Linked DNA regions of Homo sapiens: regions 2, 3, 4, 5, 6 and 7 are each linked to region 1. The links come from fine-mapping of genetic effects on gene expression. A gene starts in region 1. Each other region holds a variant in brackets. All regions are shown on one strand. Distances are from middle to middle.

Region 1 (4,068 bases):
GAAAAACCTTATTGTTACAATTATGGTACAGCCTTTACAAATTTCTTTTACATCATTTGATAATAACTAATATTCAGATAAAATATACAAATATTTTTTCAAATCAGAACATTTAAAAACACTGACGTAGATTTTTCTGGAATAATAAACGTTTTTATTTTTAACCAGCTCAGATCTCGAATTAAAGCCTAATATTCCCATCATCACTCTTTCCTGTAAAAATAAGACAGCACTTTCAATGAGAGTGGAAATAAACCATTGTTTCAGGTTTTACTTACAACTGGAGCTGCCTTGCAAAATCCCTGCCCTGGCCATCTGCCGTGGTTCCAAATAAGTTTGTAAAAGTGAATCTTGCCATTTTCAATACTTCCTCCTTTGGGTCTATTTATTCCGAAGTCTGTTTTTCTCATTCTTTTAATTTTTTTCCCCCCAAGACGGATTTGTCTGAGACACTTTTTTGCCATAACATTTGTTTTTTCTGCTTACGAGAGTGTAAGAATTCCACAAGCCAAATGTTAATATTTTGTTGTCAGTTCTTTAAGCCTTCATTTTTTCCGTCTATCGAGCCCTTTTTTTTAACCAGAACTCATTGCTTCTGAGAGTATAAAAGAGCAAAGAGGCCGGGCGCGGCGGCTCACACCTGTAATCCCAGCACCTTGAGAGGCCGAGGCGGGCGGATCACGAGGTCAAGAGATGGAGACCATCCTGGCCAACATGGTGAAACCCTGTCTCTACTAAAACATAAAAATTAGCCGGCTGTGGTGGCGCGCGCCTGTAATCCCAGCTACTCAGGAGGCTGAGGCAAGAAAATCGTTTGAACCCGGGAGGCAGGGGGTACTGTGAGTTGAGATCGCGCCACTGCACTCCAGCCTGGGAGACAGAGAAACACTCTGTCTCAAAAAAAAAAAAAAAAAAAAGTGGGGAGCAGAGAGCCGGACTTGGACACGGGAAGGTATCGTGACATGAGTGGGTCGGGGGCTGGAAAGTTTGCCCAGGCGAAGAAGTGAACATGTTTATCCGGATCACCGTTTGTTAAATGAACAGCAACCCATAGGTAGCTTCACCGAGCCGAAACGGGAAAGGCGGCAGGCAAGGGAGAAGCTAAAATCTGCAAGAAACGGGCTGGGCTGGAGGCGGCGCCAGGGCAAGAAGGGCAGGTGGGGGCCCGCGGGAGCCGGGAGCCAGGGGCGGGAGCCGGAAGGGCGGGACCCAGGGGCAAGGCCTAAGTGGGCGTGGGAGGGGCATAGTCAAGAGATGGGCGGGGACTGCTCGGGGTCTGGGCGGAGTCTAGCGGGAGCCGCGTCGAGCCGGGGAGGAGCGAGGGACCCTGGGAGAGCTGTCTTTTCAGGGCTGAGGACCCGCCAGCACCTGATGGAGAGCAAATGGCTGTTTCCACACGTGGAGAACTTTTAACGAACACGTGAGGAAGGCGGGCAATGTCTGTGGAAAAACTACCTCACAACCCAGGCGTCTTACTCCAGCCCCCAGGGCGACAGCTTGTTTACAGTATTTCTGAAGGTCTCCGTCCCCTTTTGTCGGCCCCTCCTCCTCCTCTAACCCCGACTTCAGGCTTTGAGTGAGGCTTTGGTAGAGCAGTCGCCGCCGCAGGCGCCCCGGTCGGCGAAGCCCACAGGCATGCGGGCGCAGAGGCCGTCTGCGCCTGCGCGGGGTGTCTGCTACGGGGAGGTGCGTGGAGCTCGAGGGCGTGGAGCTCGGGGGCGTGTCTCCCGCCGCGGCGCCGGGGCGGGGCGAGGGCGGAGCCTGGGGGCCCAGCGGCCCGCGCCCCGTGGCTTGACCTCCCCGACTGCTGGGCCCGTGACGTCACCCCGCTGTGACGCGCACGCTGTAGGAAAACTGTAAGTTTACGAGGATTCCTGCAGCTCCTAGGGCTTGCGGGGCCCGCTGGCAGCTGGCAGTCCCGGCGGTGGTGGTGGCTCTGGGGGCGTCAGTTCCTTGGGGAGTCGCCGATTGTGGCGAAGGGACAGGTGTCTGCTCAGAGTGGCAGCGCGCCCTGCTGGGCGGTAGGGACCTGGGGTGCGGGAGGCGAGGCCGCGCCCCGTGGGGCCGGGCCAGCACCTTTTCCCCTGGGGCGGGGCGCGTCTCCGAGCCTGGGAGCGAGGCCTTAGAAGGGGCGGAAAGTCCAAATGGAGAGTCCCTTTTTTTCTTCCGTGATAAAGGGACTTAGATTCCTTTTCTTCCCCCTCTCAGCCTTGGAGTTTGACATGTTAAGTAGGGGATGGAAGCTTCCTCTCAGAGAATAGGAATCCTATGTCCTGGCCGTTGGGATCCCACAAGTGACCAAGTCATCGTGGACACATTTATAAGATAACCAGTTGCTGCCTCAGTTTTCTTTTTTGTGTAAAAGGGAGGTACAGCAGCCTCTGGCCTCCCTAATGGTTGTTCCCACAGCACTAGGAACACGTGAGATAACACAAGTGTGTAAATTTGCTAGGAGAAAGCTTATACACAGACACTTGGTTATTCTGAGGAATGTGGTAGCCACTGGCTATTTGACCAGGAATCTTGTAGAAGGGGAACTTTTTCACTGTTTTGCCTCCCCCCGACAACCTTCCCTCCATCTGATTCTATACCACACTGGAGCCTGTTGGGTGATCGAACTGTTGTCACTAAACTTGATAGAATGGGGATCCCAAGAAATAACAGGTATCGTTAGCACGGTACTCTTGGCAATTACAATGCCCCCGTTGTCTGGGTTTTGCAGAGGAAGCTTTCAGTGTGCTGGAACTAGCACATTATAGACAACACAGACTCACTGAGTTTTAAGGATTGCTGTATCGATTTGGAATATCCAATCATCGTATCTGACTGCTTGAATATTTTGGTCAAGGGGTACTACATTATCGATTAGTTATTACTAGACTATAATGCCTCTCAAACTCCGGGACTAGTAGTCTTCAGGAACTTTGAAGGGAAGAATACTGTGCACACTTCAGGGTGTATTTATACAGGAGCTCGAGAGTTCACATTTCTGTAAATTCATTTCAGGAGTGTGATATCTTTTCATCCAGGTAGGAAGAGCCTTTGAATCAGAAAGCAGGGCTTCTAATTTTTGTTCTATTCGTTAACTAGCTTCGTGTCCAAGGACAAGTCACGCAAACTTGGAACTTTGTTTTTCTTATCTAAAATGAGAGCCGATGGTTTATCTGTTTGTTGGTTTTTCCAGGATCAAATGAGATCACGAGAGTGCAAATGAAAGGCTAAGTGTGCTATTGTTATTAGGAGATTCGCATTGGTCCCCTAGCCTGGATGAGATGTGAGTCAGAAATCTCTGGAAATAGAGCAGCAAAGAAGACAGCCTCCAACCTAGCAGGGCTCATATTGCAGTGGGAAATAGACAACGAACAATACGTGCATAATGTAATTTCAGGTAGTCATAAGTGCAGTGAAGGGAAGGAAGAAAGGAGGACAGTGGGGGAACAGGGAAGGTTGTTTTTGGTGGGATCTGTCAGGAAAAGCCATTCAAAGGCAGGGACACTTGAAGTGTGAGGGAAAGAGCCTGAGGTAAGAACATTTCAGAGAGGAATAATTAATAGCAATGAACACTTAAAAAAAGTAGAGCTTACCATATGTAAGGCACTATTCTGAACACTAAATTAAATTTTTACAAGTCTTTTGATGTAACCTAGTATCTCCCTTTCATAGATGAGGCAACTGACACACAGAAAGGTTAAGAATTTGCCAAAGTTGCACAGCTAAAACGTGGTAGAGACTATTTGAACGTGGGCAGTCTGACTTCAGAGTCCAGGCTCCAGGTGACTGTATTTTCGGCCTCACAGCAGGAACAGCACAGGACAATGCTCTGAGGTGGTCCAGACACAGTGAGAGTGTTTAGAGCACAGCCGGGAACGGGGAAAGTAGTGGCCAATGATGGTCAAGGGCCAGGCAGGCCGTGGGGTCCCTTGTAGGCTGTGGTGAAGTAAAGATGTTGTTCTAACTGTGATGGAAAACCATTGGAAGGTTTGCATCAAGGGACTGGTGTCTGATTTAAGTTTTATTGTATGGAGAATTAACTGTAGATTAGAGTGGGTCGGATGGAGTGAAAATCGG
Region 2 (4,068 bases), 42 kb before region 1:
AGTGCAGTGGTGTGATCACAGTTTACTGTAGTCTCAGACTCCCAGGCTCAAGGAATCTTCCCACCTCAGCCTCCCTAGTAGCTGGGACTACAGGCATGGGCCACTGCACCTGGCTGATTTTTTAAAACTTTTTGTGAAGACAAGGTCTCACTATGTTGTCCCTGCTGGTGTCGAAGTCCTGGCCTCAAACAATCCTCCCACTTCGGCCTTCCAAAGCACTGGAATTACAGGCATGAGCCACTGCACCTAGCCTGCCTCTAGGATTTCTACTTTCACATATACTTCCTGTAAATCCTGCCCTTAGGTCAAAATAACCATGCTGTTATCATAAACACACACTTACCATAAATCCTGCCCTTAGGCAAATTCCCTATAGTATATAAGCCCTGGGTCTGCGGGGTAACCGTGCAGTGATCCACCATCTCATGGCCGCCTGAGACATGGCTTCTGTTCTTAAGTCCCTGTTAAATATTTCTCTCTGAGAAACTGGATTTATCACCCTCTTTCTTCAGCTTCTCAGCTCCCTGGGCCTTTGGGGTAGGTTTGCACAGACCTGCTCATCCAGGAACACCCTCCTGGAGCCTCATCTCATTCCCTTTCTTTCCCGTTTACAGCTCCTCTATGTGGGTCCTTCCTGATTCCAGGGTCTCCCCTCACCACCCTGCCATCCGATACCCCCCTCTCCTCTGCAGAGCTCTCCCCAGAGATTCCTCCAATCTGTCATCTTCATCCCCAGCACTTCACTCTGCAAACAGCCCTCTTAATTTTGGGGCCAGTTTTTTTTTTTAACTATTTTCTTTTATTTCAAACATTTTTGAGGTACAAATTGTTTTTGGTTACATAGATGAGTTGTATAGTGGTGAAGTCTGAGATTTTAGTGCACTGAGGGCCCTCTTGAGACTCCCCGCTTCCTTTGAAAGCAGCAAGAGATTGTAAATAACAAAGTACTTTTCCTCTCACAAATAAAACTTTCCTGTCACTTGTATATTTGTCATTGTTCTGCTTCCAATAAGCAGCCATCTCTTAAAGGGCAAGGGATCTTATCTGTTGAAATCCAATGTGATCTGTGTCATTTGTGGATGTGGAGGGAAGACGGCTATTAATGTAATACTCTGCATCGAGCAGGCTCTTTATGTTTTTGGACTCTCAGAACAACATGAAAACCTCAGAAATATCAATATGGTATCAAATGGAATGTGTTGCAATTAGAAGGAATTAAATTCTTTCCTTGTTTCCCCATAGACAGGGTCCTCTTAGAAGTAGGATATCATGAACTTCGAGCAAAGAAAACATGAGTTTTCTGAAGACAATAATCTAACAAACACAAACACATTAACTTAGGCAGACTTCACAAAGTTTCCTTAATTCTTTCCAGTAACAGGCAAAGAGAAAGAATTCCTATTTTGCTAGCTCCTTCGTTCTTTTCTCCTACCTCTTCTAAACTTTCCCTATCCCTTGTACCTTTTCCATATCTACCCTACACACATGCGCACGCACACACACACACACACACACACACACACACACACACACAGAAACATAGAGAAGGTATGTTAAGATTACCTGGTAGAGTACTCAACAAGAGTCAAAATTGTATGATTTATGGCTGAAAATCTATTTTTCTCTAACAATTTTCTCCTTTAAAAACCAGTTCCAATAGCTCGGCTTCTTCTCAAATGCACTTTCTGCGGTAATATTTTATATCTCCACTCCCTTCCCTGGAACTTCATTTTTATTTGATTTTATTGACGCTGCTCTATTGGAATGTGTATCGCTTGAGCCCCCATGGAGAACTGAGCAGGTGTGAGTAAAGCAAAACATCTTTTGTTAATAGAAGTTCACCCTGGGAGTTCATGGAGATGCGTAATTTCAATTGCTTTTATGAAAATTCTGTAAATTCCTGTGTTGTGAATTTTGAACAGAGCTTAGGAGACCAACAGTCTTTAATACAAGCCAAAGACATGCTTATTTCTATAACTGAAATAAATGTTCTGCTTACTTTCTTCCAAAAAAATAAATGCAGGTATTTAATTGGAATGTTTAAGCTGTAGAAAATCATATTAACTTTGAGTCTGGCTCTTGGAGCCAAAATGGAGATCTCACTGTGATCAGCCTACAGGAAGATGACTTTGGTTTTCCTGCGTAACTTCTTGAAGCATGAAGAAGAGCTTACCCCACTTTCATGTGGGGTCGAGAATGACTTCACAAC[T/A]GCATTGTCCATTCCCTGCTCAAGTCTTTGTACATATTTATATTTAAAAACCTAGAGAATGTGAACAGCATCCCCCAACCTCTCAGCTTGAGGGGGTGTTGTATTATTATAATTCTCTCTGTGTGTCTAGCCCTCTTGGATTCACTGCCACAGAGACTCTGGGGGTGAGGTTAAGCCTAGCTTTCTTCCTGGTTTGGGGCCAGACATGTATGGTGTTGCACTCTCCTAAGCTGGAAGGAAAGACGTAAGCTTGGTATATTATAAAATTGCATGTGTCATTAGCAAAAGATGTCAGAATGCTTTATTTAAAACTTTGTTTTCTCAGGTTGTGTTGCCCAAGTGTATCTTGGCATAGACAACTTCAGCTTCAAAAATTCCAAGACGTATAAAGAGTTTCACATAGCTGAGGCTATTATAGTTGGTTATATGCCACTAACACCTTTTCCCCCTTCTTTCTTACTGAGTGAAGTGATGACTGCATTTCTACTAAAAATTTCATTCTCTTCTCCTGGCAACCACAGGGTCTATTCTTGATGGGATCATTTATCTGTTCCAAAAAGAAAAATGTGGCATTTGCTATGGTGTGGGATCTTTGAGGGTTTCTTAGATAAAGCCTTTAGAGTAAAAGCTTTCACTATTCTAGGACAACTTTCAGAAGAATTATCTAGCAGCCTGCCCTGGTAAACTTGCCAAATTGCTCGTACTTGGCTAGAAACCATGGGCAATCTAAGGTCCATCTTCCCCCTGTAGAGCAATAGAGTGTCTTTGGCTAGGAGCTAAGCATACTCATTTGATGTTTGGGAGAGTTTTTCAACCTGAAGATAAATTCCTTTAAAGGATTTGTTTTAACTGACAATTAGACAGCTTCATATCTACTTATGCTGAAATGAAGGTCACCTATAGAGAAGAAGAGAGATGCCTTTTTAAACATATTCCCTCGTGGTTTCTGATGCTACCTGGCAACTGGGTGGTGAACTAACAAGGGCTCAGAGTATTTTACCCTCCTACTTCTCCCATCAGACTCTTACAGAGCATTGCTATTCTTTTTTAAGTGTAAAGAACTTGAGGATGTTCCAGTACAGCCCAGAAACTTCTTTGGGAACACAGTCCTTATGGTCAGGGACTAAGTCTAGTCTCCCAGGAAGGTCCCAGCCTATGCTGATGACCTCAGCACATACCAATGGAACCCGACTGGACTGAGTGTACTCACATCTGTCCCCAGAAACCTTGCTTTATTTCCACAGCTACATTACCTCAGCCCTTCAAAGTTGCCACAAGCAATGTTGGAATTTAATGTCGGTCCCCTTGGCCACAGTGAGTAAGAACAGTTGCTGAAAAATAGCAAATGGGTGTGGAAAAATTAAGCGGGGGGATATTCAATAATCAGAGGGTGCATGAAATCAACAGAGTAAGAGATGTGCCATGATGCTCTCAAAAGTGCTGAAGCCATCCTGCCACCAATACTGACTGCAAGTGTCTTGGGACTGAAATATACCACTAAAATGGTATGATCCTTAAGAGAGGCTATGCGGTGAATGGGGCTGTATGAAATAGCAGGAAGTGATTCATAGGCTCAGGTGTGCCTGGCACACGACTCCCCCAAGTCACCTGCTCACCTGCCCAGCCAGAGTTCAGTGAATGCAGGCATATAATGGAAAAGATGGGCAGGGTGGTGAGAGTTACGGAACCTGAGTTCAAGGTGCTGCATGGGTCCCAAGCCTTTAGGTAAGTCATTTTCATTCTCAAAGCCTCATTTCTCACTAGCAAAATGAGAGGTCTGGACTGTCCAGCATCCAGCTTTTTGGTCCCAGAATAGAATCTTCCTGCACATGTTTGCATAGTGGTACTGCCCATGACCC
Region 3 (4,068 bases), 210 kb after region 1:
CAGACACAGAAAGTATGCAGCCCCAGAAAGAGGGGACGTGCAAATCGGACTGCCTTCGATGCTTTCAAAGCAGCACATTTTCCCCCTAAACTGATATTGCAGAGAGCTGGGGTTTTTTTTCTTTCCTTAAGAATGAAGAGTTAATCTTATCTAAATTCACAGAGCCAGAAACCTGTCATATTAAATCCCAGGGAAGCCCAACATTCTTTCCAACTTGCTTGCTTGAAATGTAGTTGAGTTTTCCAGTGATCTGCTGGCTAACTAGCGTCATGCAAAATGGAGCCGTTCCTTACGGCTTTGCAGGTCTCTGGGATTCCAAGCTGGGGACTTCTCTCATTTTGGGGAAAAAGCCTGGGACCATGAAGGGAGGAAACTGGAGAGAAAGGCCAGGATGGACTCTGGGCGGCTGGGCAGAGACTGTGTGCAGGTTCGTACAGCTCCGGGCGGTTACAGTTCTGGTCCCCGGCAATGCCAAGCACCCTGTGGAAAAGTGGCCCAGGCTTCAAGCTTCAGAATCGGACTCCTACCCCTTAAAGCTGCAAGCTAGCAGAAAAAAAGAGAGCTGCAAGGGAGCTGTGAAGGGGAAGGGGTCTCCTCCGGAGGGAGAGACGACTGGGATAGCCTGTTTGGGACTGAGTGTGGGGAAATGTGACAAATTCAGCCTTTTCATCGTGCGCCCTGAGCCGAGCAGAAGCGGGGCGGTAGGAGATGATTCCGCTTGCTCCGAGTTTCCAAGCTCCTTGCTCCTTTCCAAATTGCTTGCGGCAATGTAATTCTTTCCTTCGGGGACAGGCAGAGCTCCACTGTTTTTCTGGTTTCCAGGGTGTGCCCATGAGTTACCCAGAGTGGGTGGAGCGGTGGGGCCACTCTGGAATAGCCTTGCGGCAGACGCGGCTGACTGCCCTCGAACAGAACTGGCGGATCCCAAGAAACCAACCACGCGGCAAGATTTGGGGAGCCCACAGCTTCTACTCAGACACCCCTGCAGAGTGTTTGCTCATTGCTAAAAACGTGCAGGCGTCGTAGGGAGTGTCCCCAGAGGCCATTGCCTAGCTTGCCTGCAAGCCCTTAGTGAGCACCTGCCCTGTGCGAGGTTCCGAGCTCCACTCACGCAGGTCCTGCCCTCAGGAGCTCACTGTATTGCAGAGACACAAGAGGACACCAGGGTGGCTGTCTGTTCTGTGCTGGGGGAGGCCAAGGGACTCCTCACCTGCCCATCTCTCAGGAGTTTCCAACCTTTCCCCGCCAGTCCAGTCTGTGACTGGCAAGTTACCAACTGCCCCTCTTCCTTGAAAACAGCCACCTTCCTAGGTGGGTCCTGGGTCTCTGAGCTTTCCTGAGATCTAGAGAGAGGAGGAAAAAGTGTCTCTGTCACAGCTGGGGCTTCCCTAGCTGACCCTCCTCCCCCGCCACCTCTGGAGCTGAGGTTAGCAAAGCCGTGCCTACATCAGCTGAGCTGGGGAGTTTGCCGGATGAGCAGGCCTGGTGGGGCAGTGACGTTTGAACATGTCAGGTGGACAGTTGTATGTCAGGAGGTGAGAGGAGAGGGGTTGGCTGGAGAGAGCAGGTTGGATTCACCAGCACTTGGAGCACCCAGAGGGAAGGGGACCCGCCAGAGAGGGCGAGGCCAGAGGAGGCCAGACGAGCCCGAGGGCAGTGAGGTCAGCCCCTCCACCCGCCAGCCTGCAGGGATGCCTCTGGGTCAAGGCTGCATGAGCAGGGTCCTGCTTGGCCACTTATCAGCCCCTACAGCCTTAGAAGCCAAGCCCCAGCCCACTTCCTCCTGTCGACAGCACTGGCTCCAGGCCAGTAGCTGTAGTCATGGCCTGTTGACCAAGGGCTACAC[G/T]GGCCAGTGGCAGGAAGCTGCTGGTAACTCAATGAACAGACACGAGAGCTTGCAGAGTGGACTCCACAGCCTGCCTTGATTTCAGGTCCAAAGGACAGGTCCAAAACTGCACAGTACTGCAGTTCTGCACAAAATGGGTCCCTCTGCACCGTGGTTGGGTTGACTTTGAGGAGTGAGTTGAACCAGCTTCCCTCCAATACCCCAGTACCATGCATGGGGTTCCCTGGCAGCTCACGGGACAGAGCTTTGGACTGGTTCTCTCTCCAGCATCTAACCCTAGGATGAAGGTTGAAGAAGGGATTTCTCAACTCCTGAGCTCCCTTCTCCCTCTCTCCTGGCCCTCTCCCCAGTGGGGGGGCTCGGGGATCACAGACACATGCCTCAGTCTCGTTTTTTGAGGGCCATGGTCACATACCTAAAACCCAGCCACCTGGAGAGTCCTCTAGATGTTTAGATTCCCATGTTATTCTAGAGGAAACTTTGTTTGTTTGTTTGATTTTTGAGACAGAGTCTTGCTCTGTTGCCCAGGCTAGAGTGTAATGGCGCAATCTTGGCTCACTGCAACCTCCGCCTCCCGGGTTCAAGCAATTCTCTGCCTCAGTTTTCCAAGTAGCAGGGATTACAGGCACCCGCCACCATGTCCAGCTAATATTTTTGTATTTTTTAGTAGAGACGGGGTTTCACCATCTGGGCCAGGCTGGTCTTAAACTCCTGAACTCGTGATCCACCCACCTTGGCCTCCCAAAGTGCTGGGATTATAGGCATGAGCCACCGTGCCCGGCCTCTAGAGGAGACTTTTTGGTAACCTCAATCCATAAATCCATACTGAAAAATATTTGGCTGAAAATCCACACGTCTGGTGTTTTTTTTGTTTTTGTTTTGTTTTGTTTTGTTTTGTTTTCTGAGCATATGACCAGAAAGGATACAGGTCTTAAACCTTCTCCCCAAGGAGGCAGTGTAGTGAGTTAAAGACTTGAAACCCCAGCTCTACACCTTGCTGGCTGTGTGACCTTGGGTATGATTTAGCCTCTCTGTAAAATGGGAGTAGTAACAGTCCCTGGCTCACAGGGTGAAAGGAGTTAATACGTCAAGTTCTTAGAATAGTGCCTGACACATAATGAGCCCTCACCAAGTCCCAGGGACTATTATTACTCTCTGCAGGAGAGTGATAAATGTACACAGCCCTCTCGCCTAAACCAGATTGGAGCCATAGTCAGAAAATAGAACGTTTTACATTATTTAAGCCTGACCACTTGTGTATGCAGAGTCTTGTGTCAAACTGCAGCATTAAGGGGTCAAAGGGAGACCTATTTTGAGTTAACTGAAGGAGTTCTCTCTTACATTTTAGTTTAAATACAGCTTCTGCCAAAGGTGTACTTGGGAACAGGACGTATTAACATAATCTCATCCAGTGAATTAAATCCAGGCCTTGGAATGCAAAGAGAAAGAAGCCAGATGGGAAGGCTGGGTAGGGAGCTACGCACAGCCTATTTGCTCTTCATCCTTAGACTTTCTTACACGTCCGCAGGCCTGTCACTTCGGGGGACCATCAGCTCTGTCTCCCAGCCCCAGTGACCTGCTGTCTGGCAATTAGGAGGTGTACTTTCCAAGAATTCTGGATTTCCCTGAGTCTATAGCTTCAGTCCTCCTTTACCTGCTGATACAGTTTATATGTTTGTCCCCTCCAAATCTCATGTTGAAATGTGATCCCTGATGTTGGAGGCGGGGCCTGATGGGAGGTGTTTGGGTCACGGGGGCAGATGCCTCCCTCCCACGGTAATGAGTGAGTTCTCGCTCTATTAGTTCACATAAGAGCTGGTTGTTTAAGGGAAACTGACACCTCCTCTTTTATCTCTCTTGCTCCCTCTCCTGTCATGTGACATGCCTGTTCCCCCCCTTCCCCTTCTGCCATGAGTGGTAGAAGGTTCCTGAGGCCTCACCAGAAGCAAGTGCTGGTGCCATGCTTTTTTTTTTGAGGTAGGGTCTCACTCACTCTATCACCCAGGCTGGAGTGCAATGGCACCATCTCAGCCTCCTGGGTTCAAGTAATTCTCCTGCCTAAGCCTCCTGAGTAGCTGGGATTACAAGTGCCTGCCACCACGCCAGGCTAATTTTTGTATTTTGAGTAGTGATAGGGCTTCACCATGTTGGCCAGGCTGGTCTTGAGCTCCTGACCTCAAGTGATCCACTTGCCTCAGCCTCTCAAAGTGCTGGGATTACAG
Region 4 (4,068 bases), 290 kb after region 1:
TTTTTTTTTTTGAGACAGGGTCTCGCCCTGTCACCCAGGCTGGTGTGCAGTGGTCCAGTCACGGCTCACTGCAGCCTCAAACTTCTGGGCTTAAGCCATCCTCCCATCTCAGCCTCCCAAGTAGGTGGGACTATAGGCGTGCACCACCATGCCAGGCTAAGTGTGTGTGTGTGTGTTTGTGTGTATTTTTAGTAGAGACAGAGTTTTGCCATATTGCCCAGGCTGGTCTCAAACTCCTGGGGCTCAAGTGATCCGCCTGCCTTGGCCTCCCAAAGTGCTGAGATTATAGGCATGAGCCACTGCGCCCAGCCAAGAACTTTCATTACCACCCTGCCTTTTTCCCCAGCTTAGGGAAGACATAGAAAGCTATAAGTTGGCAGGACCTTAAGTGAGAACTAGGAGATATAAGACGGTGGGAGAACAAACCTTGGAATAAGATTTGAAAATGTGACCCTGTGCAGTGTGAAGCCTATGCCACCAGAAACAGAGTGGAAAGAGTGATAAGTGCTGGGGACATTGTTGCTCACTAATAGGTTATTTTAAACATAGGGGTAGGACCACGCTTCGCACTGTCATCTGTAATGTGTGAACAAAAATAGTTTTGTGGCCGGGCGCAGTGGCTCACGCCTGTAATCCCAGCACTTTGGGAGACCGAAGTGGGTGGATCACCTGAGGTCAGGAGTTTGAGACCAGCCTGGCCAACATGGTGAAACCCCGTCTCCACTGAAAATACAAAAAACTTGCTGGGAGTGGTGCCGCATGCCTGTAATCCCAGCTACTTGGGAGGCTGAGGCAGGAGAATTGCTTGAACCCAGGAGGCAGAGATTGAAGTGAGCCGAGACTGCGCCATTGCACTCCAGCCTCGGCAACAAGAGCGAAACTCCGTCTGGAAAAAAAAAAAAAGTTTTGTTCTAGCCGGATGCAGTGGCTCACGCTTGTAATCCCAGCACTTTTGGAGGTCAAGGTGGGTGGATCACTTGAGCACAGTAGTTCACGACCCGCCTGGGTAACATAGCAAAACCCCGTCTCTACAAAAAAATACAAAAATGAACTGAGCGTGGTGGCACATGACTGTAGCTCCAGCTACTTGTAGGGCTGAGGCAGGAAGATCACTTGCTCCTGGGAAGTGAGGCTGCAGTGAGCAGAGATCATGCCACTGCACTGCAGCTTGGGTGACAGAGTTAGACCCTGTCTCAAAAGAAAAAAATAGTTTTGCTCTGTCATTTGGTTGACAAAACCTATTTCAGCACTCCATTTGCCTTGAAATACGTCTATTTATTTCTGTGGTTATTCAGAAGTGCTGTCTTTTGTGCATCTGTGGGCTGCTCAGGACGGCGATGCAGTCTGAAGATGGATTTCACTATATTGAACGTGTACTATTGCATTTAAAATTAGAGACAAGAGAAAAGAAACCACCACTCACTGATGACAAGTGTCTGGTGAAATGGACACTTGTACAGGCTGCTTGTAAAAGTACATTCTGTTATGAGACATGGGAAAAACAATTTGGCAGTAAGTATCAAAACCTGTGTTGTGGGCGCTCATGTAATCCTAGCACTTTGGGATGCTGAGGCAGGAGTTTGAGACCAGCCTGGGCAACATAGTGAGACACTGTCTCTACAAAAAGTTTAAAAATTTAGCTAGATGTTGCCCAGGCGCAGTGGCTCATGCCTGTAATCCCAGCACTTTGGGAGGCTGAGGCGGGCAGATCAGATGGTTTCAGGATGGGGGCTAGTCACAGAAAGACCAAACGTTGTTTAGAAACCTGGAACTTTCAGCCTCGCCCTCCAAGCTCTGGGGAGAGCTGAGGAGCTGGAGATTGAGTTAATAATCCATCTTGCTGCCGGGCGTGGTGGTTCACACCTGTAATCCCAGTACTCTGGGAGGCCAAGGCGGACAGATCACAAGGTCAGGAGATGGATAACATCCTGGGCAACATGGCGACAAAACCCCGTCTCCACTAAAAAAATACAAAAATTAGCTGGGAGTGGTGGCACATGCCTGTAATCTTAGCTACTCGGGAGGCTGAGGCATGAGAATCGCTTGAACCCATGAGGCAGAGATTACAGTGAGCGGAGATTGCGCCACTGCACTCCAGCCTGGCGACAGAGGTAGACTCCGTCTCAAAAAAAAAAAAAAAAAAAAAAAGCTAGATGTCATGGTGTGTACCTGTAGTTCCAGCTACTCAGGAGACTGAGGCGGGAGGATCCCTTGAGCCCAGGAGTACGAGGCTGCAGTGAGCTAGGATCGTACCACTGCACTCTAGCCTGGGCGACAGAGTGAGACCTGTTTCTAAAAAACAAACAAAAAATCCTATCTCCTTTGACTCAGCCATTTCCCTTCTAGGATTTATTCTGTTTTTTTCTGTTTTTTTTTTTTTTTTTTTTTTTTTTTGTTGTTGTTGTTGTTGTTGTTGTTTTGAGATGGAATCTCGTTCTGTCTCCCAGGCTGGAGGGCAGTGGTGCGATCTCGGCTCACTGCAAGCTCC[G/A]CCTCCCGGGTTCACGCCATTCTCCTGCCTCAGCCTCCCAAGTAGCTGGAACTACAGGCGCCTGCCACCACTCCCGGCTAATTTTTTGTATTTTTAGTAGAGATGGGGTTTCACCGTGTTACCAGGATGGTCTCTATCTCCTGACCTCGTGATCTGCCCGCCTCGGCCTCCCAAAGTGCTGGGATTACAGGTGTGAGCCACCGCGCCCAGCCTCCTTCTAGGATTTGTTTTAAGGAAAAAAGTTAGTGGAGAGTTGCTGAGTACAGCACCACTTGCACTGTCAAAATTTGTACAGAAAACACATGTCCAGCATAAGGGGACTGGTTAAGTAAGTATTGAGACATCCATGAAATGTGACAATACACAGTCCCACAAATCATGTTGTGGAATGTGTTTTGGATCCATTGCTTAATGCAAAAAGTCACTTAAAAAACATTGTATCATGTGATCTCAATTTTACAAGAGAAGGATACACTGTGTATGCTTGGAGGAAAAGAATCACCAAAATATTTACAGTGACTATCTCTGCATGTTCAGAGAGGGCCTGATCTTTAATTTTTCTCCTCTGTGCTTTTCCTAATATTCTACCATAAACATACATTATGTTTGTTATCAGAGAGAAAGAAACAATGGGATTGTTGAAGAACCTCAGCCAGGGAAGTTAGCAGAATTCTTATAAAGACTAGAAGAATTTATACAGGATATTGGACTATTATATCATATTATATTATATTATATCATGCTGTAAGGTTCTGCAGTCACAAGGGGATGGGAGGGGAACTTCTTAGCAGTTCTATTTATGATCAGATGATCTTGGGGAAATACAGCGAAGGAAAACCAGGGTCAGCTGAGCCCAGGGAATTTTCTAAAGAGCATCATTTATGATGATCACATCTTGGAAAGAAGATGTAAGAAGTGTACTGGATATGTTTTGGTTTAGAGTTCATCATAAATTGGAGAGAAATAGTAGACTTGGATATCCCATAAAATAGCTCTGAATCCTGGTAGGATTAATTAAATCTCTATCCATGCAAGATAAAGTGGTGAAGCAAATCCTAACTGGGCCTCTGTTGCCTAGAATGGGTCTTGTGCTTAAAAACAACAACAACATACAAGAAGAAAGGAACCTGGCCTTGGAGCTGGAGTTGGTGATCTACATCCACCCTGGTTGGAGGCTCCATGAGACCCAGCCCTACACCCCCAGGTCTATCCGGAAAGAAGCCACGGCAAGGATGGTAGAGGTCGTCCTCATCAAGGAGGTTCCATTAACACCATCTCCTTTGTCAGCCACACCCATCCACCTGTGTGTGTGCCTGTATGCATGGGTGCCAGCCACAGGCATCACTTGTGTGTGTGTGCCAGCCATGCCCATCCAAGTGTGTGTGCACATGCCAACCACAGTCTATCTGTGTGCATGCATGTGTGCTGGCCATAGTCCAGACTGTGTGGGTTTTGCTTTGGCACCAGACTGGGAATCCCAGAATGGGGCAGCTGTGGGACCACTGCCTTGTTCCCTGTACCTTCATAAACAGCTGTTTCCTTATTTCATGCTGTAGCATGCTCAATACCTTAGAATCGTG
Region 5 (4,068 bases), 640 kb after region 1:
CACACTGAGTTCCAATGTGGATCAAAGCATGCAGGGGGTGGATGATTTGGAAAAGCAAAACCATCTCTCTTCATTACCACACAATTTCCCAGCTGAGATCATCACCAGAGTCCTACAAATCAGACAGTCAGCTTGCCCCAAACTCTGTTCCTAGAAGCTGTGACCCAGAGGGAGCCCTTGTCCAGCTATAGCCCAGGGACACTGCACCCTGGACAGGACTGCACCTGTTCCCTCCCAGGAGCCTCATCTCTGTCTGGCCTGGCTTTGGCTTCAAATACCCTCAGCTTTGGAGCTTTGGCTTCAAAATCTGTTGGATCAGATTCATGAGAGCTCTGGCCTTCTTTGGTTTAGGAATTTTAAAATAGTTTTTTCAGCAGGCAGTAGATGAACTCGGCTTGCTTACCTCTAAGGACTGGCTAGAACTCACAGAAAGCTGTTATACTCACAGTTATGGTTTGATTATAGGGAAAATATATAGATTAAAATCAGGTAGTGGAAGAAAGGCATAGGGCTGAGTCCAGGAGGTCACCAGATATGGAATGTCCATTATCCCTTCCCCATGCAGTCAGAGTGCATTACCCTCCTGGCTTTGATATGTGCCAATACACATGGAGTATTCCAGCCAGTGAGGCTCCCTCAAGCCTCAGTGTTCAGGATTTTTACTGGAACTTCATCACGGAGGCATGCTTGATTGTCCATGTGGCTGCTCTCAGTTTCCAGTCTCCAATCCTTTCAGGGGTGACCTAAAGCCAGGACTCTAAATCACATAGTCGGTTTTCCTGGCCTGGCTAGTCTCCACCCTAAATCTTATTATTAGACTATCCATCCTGACCCAAGATCCCCAGGCAAAAATATTCCTATCAGGCGTTACGTGTTGGAGATAAGGAGTCAAGGACAAAGGCCAGACCTATTTTTGGTTGTTAATTATTTTATTTTATTTTTTTTTACTATACAACATGCCATCATTCTGTTATCCTTCCTTTCTGTTTTATCTTCAAAATAACCCTAATTGGTGGGTAAGGATGTTTATTATTATAAATGAGATCTCAAAAGGAAAGGCACTTGGGCAAAGTTGCACAGTCTATCTTTGACTCGTGGTGCAATACTCTTTCCACTCTCTGAGAATCCTGAGTCCTGAGAAGAAGATAGAAGGAAGGTGTGTATATGTGTGTGTGCACGTGTGTGTGTGTGTAAATGTATATCTAATAAGTGTGTGTAGATATATGTATGTCTCTGTGTGTTTGTGTGTACATGTGGATGGGTGTCTGTATTCATGTTTGTGTGTGTGTGTACACATGCTCAGGGGGAAGGTTAAAGAGACAATCAGCAGGGTGCAGTGGTGGGAGGCAGACGGGGGAGGATCACTTGAGCCTGGGAGTTTGAGAAAGAGAAAATTTCAATAATCTTCCTCTTGCAATTAGAAGGAAAATCCTGGGGCTGGGCATAAAGAGAAATAAAGTACAGCATAAAGAGGCAGAAAAATGTCTAATGAAAAACAAGTGGCCAAGAATCTATAAAGAAATATAGCACATTAGCAGCAGAATAAAACTGGAAGATAATTTCCTCTAGAACCCTGATAATCTTTGTGAGAAAACTGTTGGTCACATATGTTAACTGCCGAAACTTGCAGGACCCTGTGCAACAGAACTGACAAGTAAAACCATGTTTCTTAAACTCACTATGCTACAACTGTCATTCAACTCTTTCACAACGAAGATTTCACAAACCTATCTCCAGCTTCCGGATGGTGAGGGAAAGTGTGATGAGATTTTGTGATAAATTGTGCCT[GTC/C]TCTGAGTCCATCTTCTCCTATTGAAGAGAAGGAAAATGAGGCTAGCACATTACAGCCCTGCCTGACAAAAGTCACAAGATAGGCAAATAATTATTATTTAAAACTGGAGTGTCCTATAATGTATTCATGAATGCCACACATTCTATATCAGATCATCCATTTCAATTTACTTATGTTCTTTGAAGCAAATTTATAAGATTTGAATTATTCAGAAAATGCTCCCAAGCTAATAGAAGAAAATACTTTAACCACATGAAGTATCATGCTACCCAATATGGTGTGGTGGTGAAGTGTGCAAGCTCTAAAACAAGAAAACACAGTTTCACGTCCTGGCCCTACCCCCTTGGGAAAGTTACGTGGTCTCTCTCTGCCTCAATTTCCCCATCTAAAGTGTGGGGATGACAATAATACTATTTCACAGAGTTGTTTTGAGGAAAAGAATATATGTAAAGCACTTTGAACAGCAGTTAGTGCTATGTAAGTGTTTCCTATTGTTATTTTAACATTTCAGATTATAAATATCTACCCTGTTATTCAGATGGCAAGCGTCCCTAAGCTGATAACATGATGAAGAGCTTTTGGGTTCCTCGATTTCCCATCAGCTTTGTGAGGAAAAAAATACCACATGAAGAAGAGCAACTGAAGCAGGTGTGAGAAGGAAACTTGGCTTAAGATTGGGGGGCTTGGGTTTGTTAGGCTTCTATCTTCTAAAAATTTCCTGAACTCCATTGATAAGAAGATTTTTAATATCAATCTAGCTAAAAAGGACCAATAGACCCCACAAGACACTGAGTTAGACATAAAAATAAAAGGGTAATAAATAGCCGGTTGCAATGGCTCATGCCTGTAATCCCAGCACTTTGAGAGGCCGAGGTGGGTGGATCATGAGGTCAGGAGTTCGGCCAGCATGGTGAAACCCTGTCTCTACTAAAAATACAAAAATTAGCTGGGCATGCTGGCACACACCTGTAATCCCAGCTACTCAGGAGGCTGAGGCAGGAGAATCGCTTGACCCCAGGTGGTGGAGGTTGCAGTGAGCCGAGATCGTGCCGCTGCATTCCAGCCTGGGTGACAGAGCGAGACTCTGTCTCAAAAAAAAAAAAAAAAAAAGAAAGAAGGATAATAAATGAAATATGGAAAACTACACAACCAGAAAAATAAACAACTACCAATACCCAAAACATGGCTAAATCTCATAGGATTGTGTTGAATGAAAGAAGTCAGCCACAAACATGCACATACTGTATGAATCCATTTATATTCATAATTAACCCAGGGTGACAGACGTCAGGATTGTGGTTAACTTTGAGGAGGACAGCAACTGAGAAGGGGCAAGAGGGAGCCCTCTGTGGTGATGGAAGCATTCTGTATCTTGAGCTGAGTGGTGGTCACATGAATGTGCACATATGTAAATAGTATGGAGTTGTAATTTAAGGTATATGCATCTCACTGTATGTAAGATACTGTCTTAGTCCATTCGTGCTGCTATAACAAAATATCTGAGACTGGGTAATGTGTAAAGGACAAAAATTTATTTCTCACAGTTCTGGTGGGTGGGAAGTCCAAGATCAAGGTGCCAGCAAATTTGTAGTCTAGTGAGGGCTGCTCTCTGCTTCCAAGATGGCACTTTAAATGCTGAGTCTTCCAGAGATGAGGAATGCTGTGTCCCAACATGGTGGAAAGGACAGAAAAGCAAAAGAAGGAAACCGAGCTAGGCAGCTCCCTCAAGCCCTTTCATAAGGTCACTATCCCATTCATGAGGGGGCTCTTCCCTCACGACTTAATTATCTCCTAAAGACGCTACCTGTAATCCCAACACTTTGGGAGGCCAAGGCGGGCAGATCATGAGGTCAGGAGATTGAGACCATCCTGGCCAACATGGTGAAACCCCGTCTCTACTAAAATACAAAAAATCAGCTGGGCATGGCACACCTGTAGTCCCAGCTACTCGGGAGGCTGAGGCAGGGGAATTGCTTGAACCCGGGAGGCAGAGGTTGCAGTGAGTCGAAATCATGCCACTGCACTCCAGCAGCCTGTAAACAGAGCAAGACTCCATCTCAAAAAAAAAAAAAAAAGACTCCACTTCTTAATACTATCACACTGGGGTGTGAGTTTCAACATGAATTTTGGAGGACACACAAGCATTCCAACCATAGCAAATTTACTTTATTAAAAAAGAAAAAAAAAAAGGAAAATCCTGTCTCCAAACATGATATTTTAAGAGTTGATATATTTACATCCCAATTTTCCAATTGCTTACATACATATTTGTGACGA
Region 6 (4,068 bases), 35 kb after region 1:
GCTGGGACTACAGGGGCCCGCCACCATGCCCGGCTAATTTTTTGTATTTTTCTTAGTAGAGACGGGGTTTCACTGTGTTAGCCAGGATGGTCTCAAACTCCTGACCTCATGATCCACCCGCCTCGGCCTCCCAAAGTGCTAGGATTACAGGCATGAGCCACTGCGCCCAGCCAATACTTGATATTTTAAAGCAAGAAACAGCAGCTGTTAAGGTCACTCCCTTTGTAAAATGGATCTATATGAGTTTCATTTTCTTTAATAAATGAAACTTTAGGCTGAAACTCTCAAATTCCCTTATCTCCAACATGCAAAGTTAATTTCATCCACATCTGTCTTGTGAAAGTATCTTTCTTTCTATATCAGTTAGAATGCTTTCAGCTGGTAAGTGACAGAGACCCAACTGAAAGTATCGTATGTAATAACTGCATTTTATTGTCTCATATAACTAGAAATCTGGAAGAAAGATAGTTTTTTTGTTGGCTTATATAGCAGCTAACTCTTATCATCAGACTCTCTGGCTCTGTCTTTTCATTCTACCATCCTGATAAGTTGGCTTTTGTCTTCAGACTTTTCCCCTCCTCATCTCAAGATGGCAGCTTTAACTCCAAGAATGACATACTCATATCAAAGCACCCATGACTGTAAGAAAAGAAGGTGTCTCTCTTATGTCTTTTTTTAAAATGAAGAAAACTTTCTTAGAAGCCTCCTAGAAAACATGACCTCATTAGCTAAAATTGCATCCTATACCCGTTTCTAAGCCAGTCAGTGGTGAGGGGTACGGAAGTCCTGTGTTTGGCTTAGACTAGTCAAGATTCATGGCCCTTCACTCCTCCCAAGGTAAAAAAAAAAAAAAAATAGGATTTTGTTATTCAGAAAGAAGGGAAGACTAGGTAGGCAACCACTAGTGTCTGCCGTATCTTCCAAGGCCAATTTATTTGCCTAGAGCTTTAATTCCTTTCTGCCTCTTAGAAGACTTTGTTAATAATTTCTTTTTGCGTTCATTTTCAGTCTTCTCATTCTTTTTCTTCAGGCTTATTGAAAGAAGAGTCTGCATATGCTGCCTTCATTTTTTTCCCCTCCCATTTATTCCTTAAATTCCTTGCAATCTGGATTTTGTTCCTCCTAATAAGAACCTTCCTTTCTATCAACAGCAATAACCACCTGATTCCCAAATCCTTTGCCAGTGTCTTTGTTTTCTGGATTTTCCATTCTCTGTTTCATTTGTTTGTACATTATTCTTTATTATTTCCTTCCGTCTGCTTGCTTAGGTTTAGTTTGCTTTTCTTTTTGTAGGTTCTGTCTTAAGGTGGAAGATTAGATTATCCACTTGAGATCTTTCTTTTTTAATATAGGCATTTATAGCTACAAATGTCTTTCTGGGTATTATTTTCTTTAGCTGTATCCAATAAATTTTGGTATGTTGAGTTTTAGTTCTCACTAATCTCAAGGTATTTTCTAATTTTCTCTCTGATTTCTTTGACCCATTGGTTATTTAGGAGTGTGGTTCCCTCCCATCTTTGTGAATTTCCTAAAATTCCTTCTGTTACTGATTTGTATTCTAATTGCATGCCATTGTTTCAGAGAACATTCTTTGTGTGATTAATCTCTTTAAATTATTGAAGGTTGTTTATGGCCTAGCATGTGGTCTCTTTTGGAAAATGTTTCATGTGCACTTAATAA[T/C]GCATATTGCCTTGTTGAGTGGAGTGTTATATAGTTGTCTGTAGGTCTGGCTGTCTTACAGTGTTGTTCAAATCTTCTGTATTCTTGTTGATTTTCTTCCTGGTGGTTTTATCTAGTATTGAAAGAGGGAAGTCTCCAATTATTATTTTTCAATTGTGTATCCCTTCAACTGTCTTTTCTTCCTTCTCTTGTTAAGTGCATATATGCTTCTAATTGTTATACCTTCCTGATGGATTGACCCTTCTGTCATTATGAAGTGTTTCTCTTTATTTCTAGTATTATATTCTTGCTTTAAAATGTATTTTGCCTGATTCTTTTATGTTTACTGTTTGTATGGTATAGCTTTTACTTTCAACCTATTTGTATGATTGAACCTAAAATGTGTCTTCTGTAGATTTTATATAGTTGGGATCTTTGTTCTTTTTCTTTTATAAAAATACAGCCTGATAATCTTTCTTTTGATTAGATTGCTTCATCTGTTCACATTTAATGTGATTACTGATATAGTTGGATTTTTGTCTGCAGTTACGAATTTTGTTTTCTATAGGTCTCAGGTCTTTTTTGTTCTTTCCTTTCTTGCCTTCTTTTGAATTAAGTAGATATATTGTAGTGTGATGCTTTAATTCCTTTGCTACTTTTAAAAATATATATTTTGAGTTATTTTCTTAGTGGTTGCTCCAGGGTTTACAGTGTACATCCCGATTTATAAGAATTTCACTTCTGATTTATACTTACTTTCAGCAAAATAGACTTCCTCTGTTAGCTCCATTTCCTTCCCCAACTTTTTCTGCTATTATTGATGTACCTATTATGTCAAACCCAACAACACACTGTTGTAATTTTTACTTTATGTCTTTTGAAGAAGCTGAGACAAGGGAGAGCAAGTACGTATTTATAGTTAGTTGTATTGACCTCTCTATTTTTTATTTTCTTTACATATTTCTGCATATTTGAGTTAGCTCTGGGGTCATTTTCTTACTCCCGAAGAACTTTGTTCTCACCTGCTTCTTTTGTGCTGTTATTGTCTAAATGTATAGCAGTAAATGTTGTTAGCCCAATAATTAAATTATAGCTACAGTGTTTTATTGAATTATTCTTTAAATCAGTTAAGAGAAGAAAGGGGAAGAAATATGCAATTACAGTGTCTTTTGCAATAATGTACGTAATTTCCTTTACTGGCATGCTTTGTTTTTTGGGGCTTCCAATTACTGTTTGGTGTTACTTGCTTTTAGCCTGAAGAATTTCCTTTAGTATTTCTTGTGAAACAGATATTCTAGCAACAAATTTTCTGTCTTTATTTTTCTGGGGATGCCTTAATTTGACCTTTATTTTAAAAACACAGTATTGCTGGATATTAGAGTCATAATTCACAGTATTTTACTTTAGTACTTTGAATATTTAATTCCATTGCTTTCTGGCCTCCCTTGTTTCTAATGAGAAGTCAGCTGTTAATCGTATTGGGGGCTGCTTTGTACTTGTCTGGTCATTTTGCTCTTGCTGCTTTCAAGATTTTCTCCTTGTCTTTGGCTCTCAAGATTTTGCCTGTAATGTGTCTGGAAGTATATCTCTTTGTATTTATCCTATTTAGAATTTGTTGAGCTCCTTGGGGGATGTGTAGATTCATATTTCTTTTTCTTTTATCAAATTTGGAAAGATTTCAACCATTATTTATTTATTTTTTGTTCTTTTTCATTCATTTTTTTTTTTCCTCTCTCTGAGATAGGGTCTCACTCTCTCACCCAGGCTGGAGTATAGTGGCATGATCTCAGCTCACTGCAGGCTCTACCTCACTGCAGGCTTAAGCAGTCCTCCCACCTCAGCCTCCTGAGTAGCTGGAACTACAGGTGTGTTTCACCCTGCCTGGTTAATTTTTAATATTTTTTATAGAGACAGGGTCTCACCATGTTTCCTAGGCTGGTATCAAATTCCTGGGCTCAAGCAATCCTCCCACCTCGGCCTCCCAAGATGCTGGAGGTACAGATGTGAGCCGCCATGCCTAGCCTCATTATTTCTTTAAGTATTATTTCTGCCTCTTTTTTCTCCTAATGGCATCTGTTTTAGTCCATTTTCTGTTACTGTAACAGAATACCAAAGACCAATACCAATAAGGAAAAGAAATTTATTTCTTATGGTTCTGGAAGCTGAGAAGTCCAAGAGCATGGTGCGAGCCTCTGGTGAGGGCCTTCTTGCTGGTGGGAATTCTCTACAGAGTCCCAAGGTGGCACAGAGCATCACATGCTGAGAGGGCACATGAGTGAGAACAAAACTGGATTTTATAAACAGATGCACTCTTGTGATAGCTAGCCTACCTGCGTGATAACCCATTAATCCAGTAACTTATTAATCTACTAATCCATTCATGAGAGCAGAACCCTCATGACCCAGTCA
Region 7 (4,068 bases), 62 kb after region 1:
ATTTTTCTTTTTAAAATAAAATTATTTACAGAGGAAATTCATGAATACTTTGTTAAAAAACAAAAAGCATTTATGTCAGGCTAAAGTTCCATTTGACTACCACCCTTCTGTCTCCCCAGAGATCATCATTTTGCTATTTATTCTTCCAAATTGTCTTCTAAATATTTTTATGCATATATATGTATACATACCACAGATGGATATGTTTTTTGTTGATGTTTAAACACAGAATGTTGATTGCTGGTTCATTTTAAATATGGCCTTCCGTTGTTATGTTTTATTTTTAATACTTCTGCAGTATTACTAATAGCAGCTGACACTTACTGCGTAGTTACTATGAGCTAGGCGGGATGCTTAGCATTTTTCATATAATTTAGCCTCATCTTCATAATAACCTTCAGAAGTAAAATAGTTTATTTTATATGAATAAAATTCTACCTTTAGTATACCTTTCATTTACAGTAAATTACTAATGCCAGTAGTTTAGCATTCTTTAATAAGATTTCTACCAAAACATTTGGAATGATTTTTTAAAATTGCTAAGACTGTAACTGCCAGTTCTGTTACACTTTTTATTCTTGTGCAGTTGGCCTTTACCAAGTCCCCAGAGTCGGGTGTCTGCTTGCTAAACCAGAAAGCTGGAGATATGAGGATGATTCTTGCTCAACTTTTAGGAATGAAGTGGTAGTATGTGTCCTATTTGACTGATTTTAAATGAGGAACAGACAACCCCAGACATTTCCTCACTAGTTAATGGTTTGAAAAGCCTATGCCTGTGATGATGTCCATTTTGGGGACAGTTATAGGAGACAAGACTTAGATTGAAGGTGGTTCCCTTTTGAAAGAAGTCTTCCATTGTGCCCTTGGTCATACCAGTATGAAGACATAAAGACGCTGCAATAGGAACTCCAAGAATTTTTATGGGAATTGGTAGAAAGGGGTATTGGGTAGGTTGAGAGAAAAAAAGGTTGTGCTTATGTATATGCTGATTTTGGAGTTTGGATGAGGATATTTTCCACATTTCATGACAAAATAAAGAGCTGTTAGTGAATGGGATAGCTCTCAGAGAGTTTTAAGTCTGAGCTCTGCTGCTTAACTAGCTGTGTGACTTTGAACAGCTTCATGACACTGTTTTAATCAAATAATAATATTCACTTCATACAGCTGTAGGGTCGAAATTACATAAAGTACGTTAGACATTGCTAAGTGTTTTATAAATGTGCTAGTATTAGGTGGTGTTCTTACTGTTTTCATTAACATAACTGTTGTCAAAAGCTTCTACAGTTCACCTCTATACCAAAGACTTAACCTACTTGCTTCTATCCTTTATTACTTGAGAAAGGTTACTATATTAGGGTTCTGTTATTTTCAGAATAGTAAAAGAGGACCTATCACCTCTTTTAACATTTAACAAATATTGAAGGCCTAATATATGTGTGTGTGTGTATATGTGTGTGTGTGTGTGTGTGTGTGTGTGTGTGTGTGTGTATCAGCCAGCATTTCTTCTGGCTGAATGCTAGTAAAGAAAGGATCATTTATATTAATAGTAACTCTGGAGGAGAGAAGAAGGTCCCAGTAAATATCATTTGCCAAAGGTCTCAGTAAATATCATTTCATTGTCATCATTA[T/G]TCTTCATAGGCTTTTTAAAATCTTTTTTGTCTTCAAGATTTAAAAAAGCATTAATTATTAATATCTGTCCATTTATGCAAGTATTTGTAAATAAATGAATTTGTAAATGGTTATGATGAGACACTGAAAAAAAAACAATAAAAACTTACCTTGCTTTGGTTTGGTTTTGGTTTTGGTTATGAAGTCACAAATAACATTCAATGGGAGTATGAGGTTTTTATGTTTAATAGGATGGAACATGGGTTAAAAATGTTAAGAAGTGCTCATTTCCAGAGTAAGCTCTCATTTTCAGCTGAGGAGACTGAGCTCCACTGAGCTTGCATTTGGTATACTTCGGGGTCCACATTCTAATGGGGAACTGATTATTGCTGGAAACCCAATCAAAAGTGTGGTTTATTCTGGGTTTGTTTAAAATTTTCCTTCCCACTGTTCTGTTTTCCTAATATAAGTATTATAGCAATTTAGAATTCATGGAAAGAATGAGCACCTTTAGCTTCTTACAGTGTCATGAGACTGCATATTTGTTATTCAGTGTTCAAGAAATTAACCATCAGTTGTTTAAGGCAACTAGGAAGTCTACAGTTTAATCTCATTTACTGTTATTTAGTGATATGCCATTTAGTATATGAAAACACTGTGGGTATAGGCTGTTGGTTGAAGCAGACTATGTGTGCTTTGGAGGGGGCACTTTGCCAAGGGAAAAAATCTTTTGATTTTTTTGTTCCCTCTTCTGGAGAGTTCTCAAAATCTATCCTTTTGACTTTTATTGGCAGTTGTCATTTTCATCGTCATCTCCATATTCTTTTATTTTTTTTGACTTACTCTGTGGCAAACCATCTCTAGCCTGAAGTTATACCAATGAAAAAAAAATCTTATTTCCAAGTGACCCATGAAATTCCATTCCATATTTTAAATGTGTCACATTGGAAATGCCACTTTTTTCTCCATTGTATTTTTGTTACCCTAACCCATGCCCTCACCATCTGAGGACTGTGTGTATTTTTACAGTTAATAGCTCTCATACTCACTGGTTTGTGGAAACTGAGCATTTCCCCTTTATCCAGAGGCAGTTGTGGTAAGTGTCTTGTTTTCTTCAGATCCCAACCACGGGTCTCTAAAGGTATCTAAGATCTGTATGGTCACATCTGCTTTTCCAAGTAACAGCTAGAAATATTTTACCATGCCTTCACTATAGCTAGGCTATAATAAAGTTTACAATCAGAGGCTGGGCACGGTGGCTCACGCCTGTAATCCCAGCACTTTGGGAGGGCTAGGTGGGCGGATAACCTGAGGTCGGGAGTTTGAGCTAGCCAGACCAACATGGAGAAACCCCATCTCTACTAAAAATACAAAATTAGCCAGGTGTGGTGGTGCATGTTTGTAATCCCAGCTTCTCAGGAGGCTGAGACAGGAGAATCGCTTGAACCCGGGAGGTGGAGGTTGTGGTGAGCCGAGATCACACCATTGCACTCCAGCCTGGGCAACAAGAGCGAAACTCCGTCTCAAAAAAAAAAAAAAAAAAAAAAAAAAGTTTACATTCAGTTAAATTCTCTAAGCTTCTGGCTTAGAATATTGAAGAAACTTTTACATAGAGTAGATAAAGGATGGAGTAGGAATTTCTGATTTGATTGTGTGTTATTGTGGAAAGAATGCTTTCCCTACAGACTGACTAGGAACAAGATGTTTAAACATAAGCCAGGGTGGAGACCTGTTTGGTCAGCTTTATAGGAGCCACGTTTCCCTACTTAGGATGAGTTTGCCAACTATCCCATCAACCTACCGCTGCCTGATCCTTCAAGTGTCTTTGGAATTTTTACTTAGGGCACTGTTGGGTAAGGCAGTGATATAGTACATATGTAGCAATTAGGCTAGAGGCTGTTTTGCGGAACAGCATGATTTTATCATGCCGTTATAAATTTATGCTGTGCTCTGTGTATATATATATAAAATGTCTTTTTTTCCCCTTTTTCTCCATCCCTCTCTGCTCCTGGCTTGTATATTCACATAACTGGGCAGCAGCAGGACTTCATTTATCACAGGCAGTGGGAGGGGGTACAGAGCTATGAAAGGGTTACTGTTCACATTTCCTGTGTAGTTCCTTCTGATCTTACTGAGTTGTAATTCCTTTCTTGATGTTAAACATTCCCAGGCTCCAGTAACCTTCTGGCCTGCTTGCACTGGCCAAGTGTGTCCCAGGTGATCTTGTAGGCGAACCTCCTGTTTTTAAGACAAGAAATCGCTCCTTCCTTCATGAGATAGGCTAAATATTCATTCCTTTGCAGTCCCAGAAGAAATCCTTTAATTTAAAACAACACCAGAGCAGTAACATATTAGTTTTAAAATTAAAATTTAGCAGCCATATTTGTTGTCAGGTTAATTTTGTAGATTTTTGAATCTATTCATTCGTAGTTTAGTGACTTTCTGGTTGAATGAAACCCT

Which allele goes with the higher level. Alleles are on the strand shown, and positions count from the first base shown. SD is a standard deviation of normalised expression in the study named. Not every link is listed here.
In carriers of allele T in region 2, the expression in unexposed skin of the gene that starts at base 1,824 in region 1 tends to be lower than with A alone (moderate effect, 0.43 SD a copy in GTEx).
For the expression in thyroid of the gene that starts at base 1,824 in region 1, T is the low allele of the variant in region 3 and G is the other (small effect, 0.33 SD a copy in GTEx).

What was found. PIP is the estimated chance that this variant, and not a neighbour inherited with it, causes the effect. A credible set is the group of variants that fine-mapping cannot tell apart.
Region 2: its variant is the best candidate, but not a certain one, in a credible set for the expression of ZNF438 in unexposed skin (GTEx, PIP 0.61).
Region 3: its variant is the best candidate, but not a certain one, in a credible set for the expression of ZNF438 in thyroid (GTEx, PIP 0.60).
Region 4: its variant is the best candidate, but not a certain one, in a credible set for the expression of ZNF438 in whole blood (INTERVAL, PIP 0.51).
Region 5: its variant is the best candidate, but not a certain one, in a credible set for the expression of ZNF438 in anterior cingulate cortex (GTEx, PIP 0.63).
Region 6: its variant is the best candidate, but not a certain one, in a credible set for the expression of ZNF438 in monocytes (Quach 2016, PIP 0.78).
Region 7: its variant is the best candidate, but not a certain one, in a credible set for the expression of ZNF438 in whole blood (TOPMed, PIP 0.75).

The regions. Positions count from the first base shown.
Region 1 is chr10:31,029,621-31,033,688 of GRCh38, reverse strand. ZNF438 (zinc finger protein 438) reads left to right here and starts at 1,824. Exons shown (of 7, transcript NM_001143768.2): 1 at 1,824-1,856. It overlaps LOC105376481 (a long non-coding RNA gene), which reads right to left and starts at 1,181. Exons shown (of 3, transcript XR_001747410.3): 1 at 1-1,181. RefSeq lists a silencer at 1,603-2,162.
Region 2 is chr10:31,071,130-31,075,197 of GRCh38, reverse strand. All of the region lies in intron 1 of LOC105376481 (a long non-coding RNA gene), which reads right to left. Among named protein-coding and RNA genes, the nearest start is that of ZNF438, 41 kb to the right of the region's middle. The variant T/A (reference allele first, on the strand shown) is at 2,210.
Region 3 is chr10:30,815,889-30,819,956 of GRCh38, reverse strand. No RefSeq gene overlaps it. Among named protein-coding and RNA genes, the nearest start is that of LINC02644, 95 kb to the right of the region's middle. RefSeq lists enhancers at 1,855-1,904, 1,300-2,221. The variant G/T (reference allele first, on the strand shown) is at 1,847.
Region 4 is chr10:30,743,565-30,747,632 of GRCh38, reverse strand. No RefSeq gene overlaps it. Among named protein-coding and RNA genes, the nearest start is that of LINC02644, 22 kb to the right of the region's middle. The variant G/A (reference allele first, on the strand shown) is at 2,489.
Region 5 is chr10:30,394,133-30,398,200 of GRCh38, reverse strand. No RefSeq gene overlaps it. Among named protein-coding and RNA genes, the nearest start is that of MIR7162, 28 kb to the right of the region's middle. The variant GTC/C (reference allele first, on the strand shown) is at 1,789.
Region 6 is chr10:30,994,363-30,998,430 of GRCh38, reverse strand. The region is part of intron 1 of ZNF438 (zinc finger protein 438); the gene reads left to right. Among named protein-coding and RNA genes, the nearest start is that of ZNF438, 35 kb to the left of the region's middle. The variant T/C (reference allele first, on the strand shown) is at 1,681.
Region 7 is chr10:30,967,526-30,971,593 of GRCh38, reverse strand. The region is part of intron 2 of ZNF438 (zinc finger protein 438); the gene reads left to right. Among named protein-coding and RNA genes, the nearest start is that of ZNF438, 62 kb to the left of the region's middle. The variant T/G (reference allele first, on the strand shown) is at 1,629.